2 linked regions of the Homo sapiens genome follow. The protein of the gene in region 1 purifies or fractionates together with the protein of each later gene. This does not show direct contact. Each region holds a gene or a part of one and is shown on either strand. Other genes may lie near its edges. The genes, in order: F3 and TM9SF4.

The links.
Region 2: the proteins of F3 (region 1) and TM9SF4 purify together in Homo sapiens (affinity purification with mass spectrometry; 3 studies listed by BioGRID and IntAct, with this or other methods). This does not show direct contact.

Annotation. Positions count from the first base shown.
Region 1 is NC_000001.11:94,528,412-94,531,800, forward strand, and holds the end of F3 (tissue factor isoform 1 precursor), read right to left. Parts: intron 2,186-3,389; coding exon 2,049-2,185; 3' UTR 762-2,048; downstream 1-761. UniProt on the Homo sapiens protein: Initiates blood coagulation by forming a complex with circulating factor VII or VIIa. The [TF:VIIa] complex activates factors IX or X by specific limited proteolysis.
Region 2 is NC_000020.11:32,112,497-32,119,798, forward strand, and holds part of TM9SF4 (transmembrane 9 superfamily member 4 isoform 1 precursor), read left to right. Parts: intron 1-7,302. UniProt on the Homo sapiens protein: Associates with proteins harboring glycine-rich transmembrane domains and ensures their efficient localization to the cell surface.

The sequences.
Region 1 (3,389 bases):
ATCTGGATGTTTTTCCTAGATAACAGTGCCCCCTTCCACAGTGGGAAGCAAAAGCAGTCTTGTGGCCCAGTAGGTGCCAAGAACCTTTTTCATCTCTAGTTAGAATCCTCTTTTACTACAGTTGAGAGAATAAGGCTGTTTTGCATTTGAATGGAGAACTACATTCTAGAGATAATAAAGCCAACTCAACTCAGCCATGACTGACTGAGTCCACTGTGCAGTCACCCTCAAGAGCTGTAAACCATGAGCTAGGCCCAGTCCCTGCCCTCCAAGAGCTCTCAATCTAGCTTGCTTTTAATGGACTCTAGAGATCTCATTCCACTTATATCTCTCCCTATCCTATATTGTCCTTTTACCTAATTTTGTTTCAATACAATCATCCCAAGAATGTTTCTTTTTTTCTCATCTCCAATTAGTCAAACTACTGCCAATGGGAAGAAATCTCTCCAAGTCTGCAGTAGAGAGCATTATCTTTTCTCTTCCCTGTAAGACGACATCCCTGCCCCGTCATGTGCCTTGCAGTGACTCCAGTAGACAAAGTATTGTCAGGCTTGGTCACTTGCTTGGGACAGTAGCATGTGAACAGAAGTGACAATGGGCACCTACAGAGCAGAAGTGTAGGAGATGGGCTTAAAGCTTGAAGCTGTGGTTGCCGGTTTCTACCAGTTTTTTGTTTTTCCCTCTGCCCTGATCTAATTAGGGGCTTCTCCATTGGTTTGCATCCTAGAATGAGAAAACATTGAGAAGAAGTGCAGTCAGCCTACAGTCACCAAAATGTATTATAAGCGAAAAAGATACGTTGTTGTAAGCCACTGACAATTTTACAGTCATTTACTGTAGTAGAGCTAATACAAACACCAAATTGTACATAAATAATAAATGGAAGATAGAATAAGTACAACAGTAACAATTCCCAGTCACCTTTATTTAAAGTATATTAAATAAATTATCTCAATATATACAAATAGAACAATATTACCTACATAAATAGAAAATCCCCATATAGAAAACCTTTTTAAAAAATTATATATACAATGTCAACCATAGAAGCTTTAAGTACCTTAAATCATAAACTCTGTAGTTTGTATAGTAGTCTTATAAAAATATAGTTAGCTCTCAAATGTTTAATGCCACTTAAGTCAGTTAAAGTGCAGATTGTAAAGCATATTAGGAAGGTGCCCAGAATACCAATGTCTCCTGCACTTAACACATTAATACAAAGTTTGCCAATTGTTTTGAATTTCCAAATGTATTCCTGAAAAAAAAAAGAACCTAAACACTATATTATAGACATATGTTAGAAAAGTCCTAGAAATGCACCCAATTTCCTTCCATTTTACTTTCCTACATGGATTGAAGTCAGCCCCTCAAAAGCTTTTCGGCTGGGCATGGTGGTTCACGCCCATAATACTAGCACTTTGGGAGGCCAAGGTGGGTGGATCACCTGAGGTCAGGAATTCAAGACCAGCCTGGCCAAGATGGTGAAACCCCATCTCTACTAAAAAATACAAAAATTAGCTTGGCGTGGTAGTGCGCACCTGTAATCCCAGCTACTCGGGAGGCTGAGGCAGACAATTGCTTGAACCCGAGAGACGGAGGGTGCAGTGAGCCGAGATCGTGCTACTGCACTCCAGCCTGGGCAACAGAGCAAGACTCCGTCTCAAAAAAAAAAAAAAAAAAAAAAAAGCTTTTCAAAAGTCCACCCAGGATTTTTTAAGACATTTTCCCATTTGTTTTTGCTTGGACGACCTGGTTACTCCTTGAGTGCGGAATATATAATCTAAAGCATGTTATGTGCAAAAGGTGCCATGGTGTTAAAAATTAAAACTTGGAATTGGTTGTAGTACCATTCGTTACATTTCAAAGTGACTAATGCTGATGTCAAAACCAGAATGCTAATGGTAATAACAGGTCATATCAAGAGTTTTTTGAACTCCAGGGTCTTCATGCTCCGAAATACTCATTTGCGTTTCCATGTATTCTATCCTCTTAAAAGTTCTCGGTCACAGTGCAATATAGCATTTGCAGTAGCTCCAACAGTGCTTCCTTTATGAAACATTCAGTGGGGAGTTCTCCTTCCAGCTCTGCCCCACTCCTGCCTTTCTACACTTGTGTAGAGATATAGCCAGGATGATGACAAGGATGATGACCACAAATACCACAGCTCCAATGATGTAGAATATTTCTGAAAAATAAAGGGCATCTAGTCAACTTGGAGAGCTCAAATCCCATTTATCAGTGGACAAAATTGACGGCATAACCCCAAATTACACCATCCTATTTTTGTGCAATTTGACTTTCTTTCACTCTTTCCACCACACTTACATTAGGAAAGAATTTGTCAAAACCTGAACGTTTCAGAGTAATTGACAATGGCTAAACACATTTAATGGGCATTTAATAAACTGAATAATGCACAGTCCAGAAAAGATATGTAGTTGGAGGTAAGAACAATGGCTGGAAAGAAGTGCCTAAAAACGATGCTGAGATTGATGGCAATGATTATAACGGAAGGTGAACCCTAAGTGCAAAGTGGGAGATCCAAAGTGCTACCAGGATTTGGGTGAAGAAGAGATAGTAACTAGTTGGTGCAGTAGCAAGGCCTTCTGGTGGAAGTGGCGTTTGAAATGCCTCTCCAAGATAGAGAACGGCCAGGGAAGCAGAGAAGTGTGTGTGCACAAAAGGAGAGGCAGTGGAATTAGAGCTAGGCTTTAGGACAATGACTGAAGGCTGTGGGTAGGATGGCTCAGAGGGGTGCAGGACCAGAGGTAAAGAGAAACCTCTCCTGTCAGTGGCAATAAACAGGAGAGAACAGTTTATTTAAAGTGTTTTAAAATGTTCAAATATCATCTTCACATGGAGCTAAGCCATCATTTCTTTTTTCGTTGTTTCTTTTTTTTTTTTTTTTGAGATGGAATCTCGCTCTGTCACCCAGGCTGGAGTACAGTGGTCCAATCTCAGCTCACTTCAGCCTCCGCCTCCCAGGTTCAAGCAATTCTCCTGCCTCAACCTCCTGAGTAGCTGGGACTACAGACACGTGCAACCACACCCAGCTACTTTTTGTATTTTGAGTAGAGATGGGCTTTTACCATGTTGGCCAGGCTGGTCCCAAACTCCTGACCTCAAGTGATTTGCCTGTCTGGGCCTCCCAAAGTGCAGGGACTACAGGCGTGAGCCACCACACCCAGCGTAAGCCATCGTTTATATCCCCTGACTCTTTTCTTCACTGGAAGTACTCAGAATACTTTCCCTGTAAGGCATGGATCGAGACACACAGGCTTGCAGCTTCCTGCAAGAGTCTGAAGGCCCACAGCACTTCCGGTTAGGGACTGTTCCTCGCACAATGGGCCTGAGCTCCCAACATATGCACATGCATGTACACACACGTG
Region 2 (7,302 bases), on another chromosome or scaffold:
ACCAGCCTGGCCAACATGGCGAAACCCTGTCTTCTAAAAATACAAAAATTAGCAGGGTGTGGTGGCACACACCTGTAATCCCAGCTACTCGGGAGGCTGAGGCACAAGAATCGCTTGAACCCGGGAGGCGGAGGCTACAGTGAGCCAAGATCGTGTCACTGCACTGCAGCCTGGGTGACAGAGTGAGACCCTATCTCAAAAAAAAAAAAAAAACAAAAAACAAAACACACCACCACCAACAAAACCCTGCAAGTACGGTGATTTAGTGTTTGTTGTGCCACCTGGGAGTGTTGTACTGAAAACAGTAACTGATTTAAAGAAACTGAGTATGTAACATATGCAGTGACCCACAGAGGCCAGTTTAAAGGGTGCATATGGAGAAACTTCATATCTGGTGCAATAGTGAAAAGGTGTGGAAGCAAATTTATTACAGGGGTATGTGATGAAGGGGCAAAGTGGAGTCACAGGCTTGAGTTTGGTCTGTGTCAGCACTTCATTACACGGAAGTCAGAATAGTCCCCACACCCTCATACACACCCTCATTTCATAACCATTGGGGCGAGGGGGTGCGGTAGACCTACTTTGGAGTGTATGGGTCTCTGAGGTGAGTCATACAGCCAAAGAGGAACTGAACTAGTGGATCCAGTGGCCGTGGGAATAGCTGGGTTGCTGGTTTGTCCTTTGTTTTGAAAGTTAGGGTTGTGGGTGCAAGTGCGGTGGCATGTGAGCTTTTCCCTTTCTCTCTTTCCTTGGTGAATGGCTCTTCTTCCCCAAGGGTTGAGCCGCCAGCTCCCAGAACAATGTCAGTATGGAGGGTGTTTCCTGAACCCGCAGGGCAAGACTTCTCCCTCCATAGAAGATAGCTGGTGTAAACTGAAGTTCTCTTTGATTTTCCTGTCTTCTTCCATCCTTAGATTTAGACTACTCTGTAAAGTTACAGGATACAGTGTTGATCTAGCTAGGTCTGAATTGAGATGCGGGCTCATGTCTCACTCTTTATGGAAAACGGTTCTTGGGAATATTATTTCATTGAAACTTGGGAAATGTCCATTGAGTACATTTCTAGATGTGTCAGGAGTCTAGAAACTTCAGTTTGGAGAATAAAACTCTACTTCCCTCACATCATTGTTCATACTGTTTTGGTTTTTATTATAATCTTCTTTATGGATATAATTCATATGCCATAAAATTCACCCCTTTAAAGTATATAATTTAGTGGGTTTTAGTGTTTTTATAGGTTGTGCATACACTAAATGTGATGGTTATCACCATTGTGTAATTCGGAACATTTCATCACCCCAAAAAGAGAGTCACTCCCTACTCTTCCCTCCCCACAGCCCTAGGCAACTACTAATTTACCTTCTGTCCCTATAGATTTGCCTATTCTGGACATTTTATACAAAGATAATTATATAATATGTGATCTTTTGTGTCTGGCTTCTTAGCATAATGTTTTCAAAGTTTGTTTATGTTGTATCATGTATCAGTAGTGCCGCATCCCTTTTTATGGCTGAATCTTCCCTTGTATGGATGTACCACAGCTTGTTTATCACTCATCAGTTGATGGATATTGGGATTGTTTTCACTTTTTGGTTGTTAGGTATAATGCTGCTGTGAACATTCAGGTGTAAGTTCTTGTGTGAACATACATTCAGTTTCCATGGGTGTATGGAAGTGTATTCCTGCATCAGTTCACACTGTTTTGAGGTTACTTGGGTTTGAGCCACTCCAGAAACAGGAATGGAATAAATGACATCAAGATTCCTTTGTGCTAATGGAGCCAATGCCAGTAGTCCCTCCAGCCCCAGTCAAAGGCACAGAAACTGGTTTTGTTTGTTTGTTATTATTATTTGAGACAGGGTCTCACTCTGTCATCCAGGCTGGAGTGCAGTGGCACGATCATAGTTCACTGCAGCCTCCACCTCCCGGGCTCAGGCGATCATCTTGCCTTAGCCTTCTGAGTAGCTGGGACTACAGGCACGCACCACATCCACCTAATTTTTTAATTATATTTTTCTTAGAGACAGGGTCTTGCTATGTTGCCCAGGCTAGCCTTGAACTCCTGGCCTCAAGCAATCCTCCCGTCTTGACCTCCCAAAGTGCTGGGATTACAGGTGTGAGTCACTGTGCCCAGCAAAAACTGTTTTTAATGGTGAAATAGCGTGCTAATCAGGTTGGATGATAGAGTCCTGGAACAGAAGGCCAGAGGCCTGAACTGTGCCATCAGTCTTGTGTGCAGGAAGTTGCTGTCTCCTCTGGACCCCATGTACAGGAGGACATGAGCTGACTGAAGAAGGAACGCTGGAGCAGGAGCCAGCAGCCTGGGCTTGGTCCCAGCGCTGCCACTGATGCATTGTGTGGCCTGGGGCAAATTACTTTGGCTTCATTAGTCTGTTTTCCACATATGTCATGTGTGAAATTAAGGTTTGTACTTGATGATTTCCAAATTCTGAGTTGAAAATTTTGTAGTTTGGAATACTTTAAGGTGAGTTTTGCTAATATGCCTATAAAATCAGACTTATTTTGTTTTTTCCATGATGATGGTCACTGTGATCTTTCCAAGCTGTTGTGTTGGTTGTATTGTCTGTCTGATCACCCAGGTTTCCCCACCTGGCTCATGTTCTGCAGGAGCTACTGTGTCCTTGGAGCTGAGGTGCTGACATCGGGCCTTGGTTAAATGTGTTTCTCTGAGGGGTCCCTTTAAAGGAATGCCCTTAATCCCCCTCAGGAAGTACAGAGGAGGTTGGGATCACATTAAGTTGCCTCTTAGTTTCTGTTTTACAACTTGGACAAACGTCTCCCTTTGATCTTGGCATTAAAGAAGCACGTCAGAGAATGTTGGAGAAGGCTGAGTTTTGATCTCTGGGCACTGGCAAAAAGGTGGGAAGGACCCAGGATGAGAAGAGCCATCTGGCCACGGATGAATAATAGGAGCCACTACCACCTTCAAGCCTGCTTTGATCCCTGAACCATTTGCTGACACTAGAGTTTCCCAAATGGGGCATGGATGGGGACACCCAGGACTTCTCAGTTCCATCTCATTCCTTTTCATTGCTTCCTTCTCTCCCTTCCTAACATGGTTTCTCACCTATGCCTGATGCTTTAAACCAACAGACCTCCCAGGGTTTGAAATCCTCTTATGCTTGGTCTGAGAATCTGGGCTAGACTCCCAGCTCTGACACTGTGATTACTTTTGTGACTTTGGACTGATTGGTTATGTGATTTTGGGAAAACCGTTTGCGCTTTTAAGCCTCAATTACCTTATATTAAAATTTTTTATTGTGGTAATAACAAAACCTACCACTTTAAGCTTTTTTTTTTTTTTTTTTTTTTTTGAGACAGAGTCTCACTCTGTCGCCCAGGGTGGAGTGCAATGGTGCGATCTCAGCTCAGTGCATTACTGCAACCTCTGTCTCCTGGGTTCGAGCGATTCTCCTGCCTCATCTTCCCAAGTAGCTGGGACTACAGGCATGTGCCACCACGCCTGGCTAATTTTTGTATTTTTAGTAAGGATAGGGTTTCGCCATGTTGGCCAGGCTGGTCTCGAACTCCTGACCTTGGGTGATCCACCTGCCTCAGCCTCCCAAAGTGCTGGTATTACAGGCATGAGCCACCATGCCTGGCCCACTTTAAGCATTTTTAAGTGTGCAGTTCAGTGGCATTAAGTACGTTTACACATATGCAGCTGTTAGCACTATCCGTCTCCAGAACTTTTTCATCATCTCATTTTTGAAACAAGGATGATATTCTCAAGGGATTGTTGTGATGATTAAATGAAATATGAGATGAAAGTGCTAGCACAGAGAGGGCACTCTGTAACTTTACTCCAAGGTTTGAAGTCTTCCCGTGGTGAGCTATCTAAGCCTGCTGCTTGGGCTAGCTGAGAGTTCTTTTATAAATACCCAAGGTGGAGACAGGAGAGCAGTACGTTTCTGCACTTGGTGGTGTCAGGGTTGAAGTCTGGTTGCCTGTTGCTTCGTGAGGGTGGTTATTAGTTTCACCTGGACTTCCGCAGTGCAGCCTGCTGTGCGTTTTTCCCTACCCCCAAATTACAGCTTTGAGTCTTTCATGTGTCTCTGTTCAACAGCTACTCTGTGTCTGTGGGCTCTGAAATAAAGGCTACATTTTCAGTTTCCTGTGGCTAATTTGTTTTTTGTTTGTTTGTTTGTTTGTTTCTTGCTCTGTGAGTTCTTTAGTTCCATGGGCCTGCTTGGTAAGTTGTCTCTAGCTGTCATTAGCCTTCATTCACATGCGGCTGGATTCTTGGTAAGCTTTAACTGACTGGATAATTGACTTCAGTTAACTGTTGGCAAACTGTGCCCAAAGCCTTTTTCTTTTTTTTTTTTTTCCTCCTTTTTCCTTTTTCTTTTTTTTTTTTTTTTTTTTTTTTTTGCTTAATCTGAGGGAGCAGTTACTGACATGGTCTCAAAATGGTGACTGTCGCCAGGCACAGTGGCTTACACCTGTAATCCCAGCACTTTGGGAAATGCCGAGGTCGGAGTGGGTCATTTGAGGTCAGGAGCTCAAGACCAGCCTGGCCAACATGGCGAAACCCTGTCTCTACAAAAATACAAAAAAATTGCCGGGTCTGGTGGCAGGCACCTGTCATCCCAGCCACTCAGGAGGCTGAGGCAGGAGAATCACTTGAACCCAGGAGGCGGAGGTTGCAGTGAGCCAAGATCATATCACTGCACTCTAGCCTGGGCAACAGAGCTAGACTCTGTCTCAAAAAAAAAAAAAAAAAAAAAAAGTGACTGTCTTTTAGAAAGAAAAAGAAGAATCTAGTCTATTGCTAAGGAAAATGCTGCTTTTGCAGTAGGAAAGGCATGGAACAGGAACCAAAAAGGCCGTTCAGATTGGCCAGATGTATTGCTGCTAGTTGATGCTATTTATGGGAAAGGAGATTGCAAGGCAGAGGGCTCCAGAAAAAGTTAACTTCTGGTTACAGAGAAATGCAAGTGAATGAAATAATTTTTCGTTCTCAGGGAAACTTCCTGTTTTCTTTGGAAGATGTTAATTGTTCACACCTTTCAAACTGGGTGGGGTGAATTTGGAGTGGCTGGGGGTACTTTTGAGTCCTAGCAGCCCTTCATTAGACAGCTGTTTGGGGGAGATATTTCTGAGTGCCCAACCCACCCCCGCCCCCCCAAGAATAAAACAGATGGGGAGGGAAAGACCTTGATTCTTGGTTCTCTTGAGCTTTATAACATTCCAGGTCACCTGTATCTTTGCCAGTGATGGCGTGTTAGATTACAGCACAAAAGGCTTCTAGATTGCCATCACCTTGTTCCTTGATATGCTGCCTTTGAGGTCTCTTTTGCTACTTGGAAACCAAGTAGCAAAAGCAAAATGACGTTGAATGGGCTGGTTCACATCTCTTAGGACTCTTTGCATGGCTCTGAACATGCAGAAGATGATTACTAAATATTTAATTGACTTTTCAGACTGAACCTCTCATGGGAGTTAATGAGGCAATCAATTAAAAATTAAAAGAAAATTTAAAGGAATTTCCTAAGAAGCAGGTACTTTGCTTTTTCCTTACAGAAAAGAACTGCAGGCCAAACATCCTCTATCAGGCTATCAGGAATATAGAAGGTGATGAAGTCATAGAATCATAAAAAGTTGGAACAGTGTCCAGGGGTTTTACCAGAAACCCATGAACTTCTAGTCCTTGATTCTCTGTGTATTGGAATATTTTTTCCGAGATCAGTATCTGTAGCTTTGATAAGTTTCTCAGAGGGATTTGTGACACCCTCCCCAAGATTAAAAATTGCTGATCTGTCTGCTTACCCACATACCTGGTGCCAGAATCCGCTCTGCATAATTCTTACCTTAGCCCACTTTCTGCACATCTTCTGTGGAACTCATCCCAGTATTTTCAGAGGCAACCCATTTCCTTCACTTCTTAAAATATAAATGAATATATGTCTTTAATTTTTTAATTTTTTTAGAGACAGGGTCTCACCCTGTCACCCAGGTTGGAGTGCAGTGGTGGAATCATAGCTCACTCTAACTGCAGCCGTCGGACTCCTGGGCTCAGGTGATCCTCCCACGTAATTATAGGTATTAGCTACTATGCCCAGCCTAAATGTATTTATTTTGTTGTATTTATTTATTTATTTATTTATTTATTTATTTATTTATTTATTTTTATTTTGAGACAAGGTCTCACTCTGTTGCCCAAGCTGGAGTGCAGTGGCGTGATTTCTGCTCACTGCAACCTCCACCTCCCAGGCTCAAGTGATCCTCCCACCTCAGCCTCCAGAGTAGCTGTGACTACAGGCAAGCACCACCATTCCTCATTAATTTTTTGTATTCTTTGTAGAGACGAGGTTTTGCTCAGGCTGGTCTCAAACTCTTGGGCTCAAGCGATCCACCTGCCTCGGCCTTACAAAGTGCTGGGATTATAGTCCTGAGCTACTCTGCCCGTAAATGTATTTATTTTTAATAAGGGTGATCCATGTATGTGGAAAAGAGTATTAAAAAGCTATAAAAGTATCAAAACATTATGTTGTGTGCCTACCATAAATATATTCAATTTTTACTTGTCAGTCTTTAAAAAGCTATAAAATGGATCAGGCGCAGTGGCTCACACCTGTAATCCCAGCATTTTGGGAGACTGTGTTGCTCATAAAGGAATACCTGAGGCTGAGTAATTTATAAAGAAAAGAGGTTTATTTGGCCAGATTTGGTGGCTCATGCTTGTAATGTCAGCACTTTGGGAAGCTGAGGCAGGTGGATCGCTTGAGCCCAGGAGTTCAAGACCATCCTGGGCAACATGATGAAACCCAGTCTCTATTAAAAATACAAAAATTAGGGCTGGGCACCGTGGCTCATGCCTGTAATCCCAGCACTTTGGGAGGCCGAGGCAAGCAGATTCTAGTGGGTGTGTGGTGGTACCTCACTGTGGTTTTGGTTTGCGTTTTCCTATTGACAAATGATATTAAATATATTTTATGCTTATTAGTCATTCATATATCTTCTTTGGTGAATTTCTGTACAAATCTCTTGTCCATTTTTAAATCGGATTGTCATTTTCTTATTAAGTGTTCTTTGTATATTCTGGATATAAGTTCCTTATCAGGTATGTGATTTGCAAAGAATTTTCCACTAGTCTTTGGCCCATCTTTTCATTTTCTTAGTGGTATCTTTGGAAGTGTAAAAGTTTTTAAATTTTTATGAAATTTAATTTATTATAATTTTTTTAATGGATTCTGGTTTTGGTGTTGTATCTAAGACATTTTTGCCTAACCCAAGATCACAATGATTTCTTATTTTTTCCGTATAGAGGTTTTTGAGTTT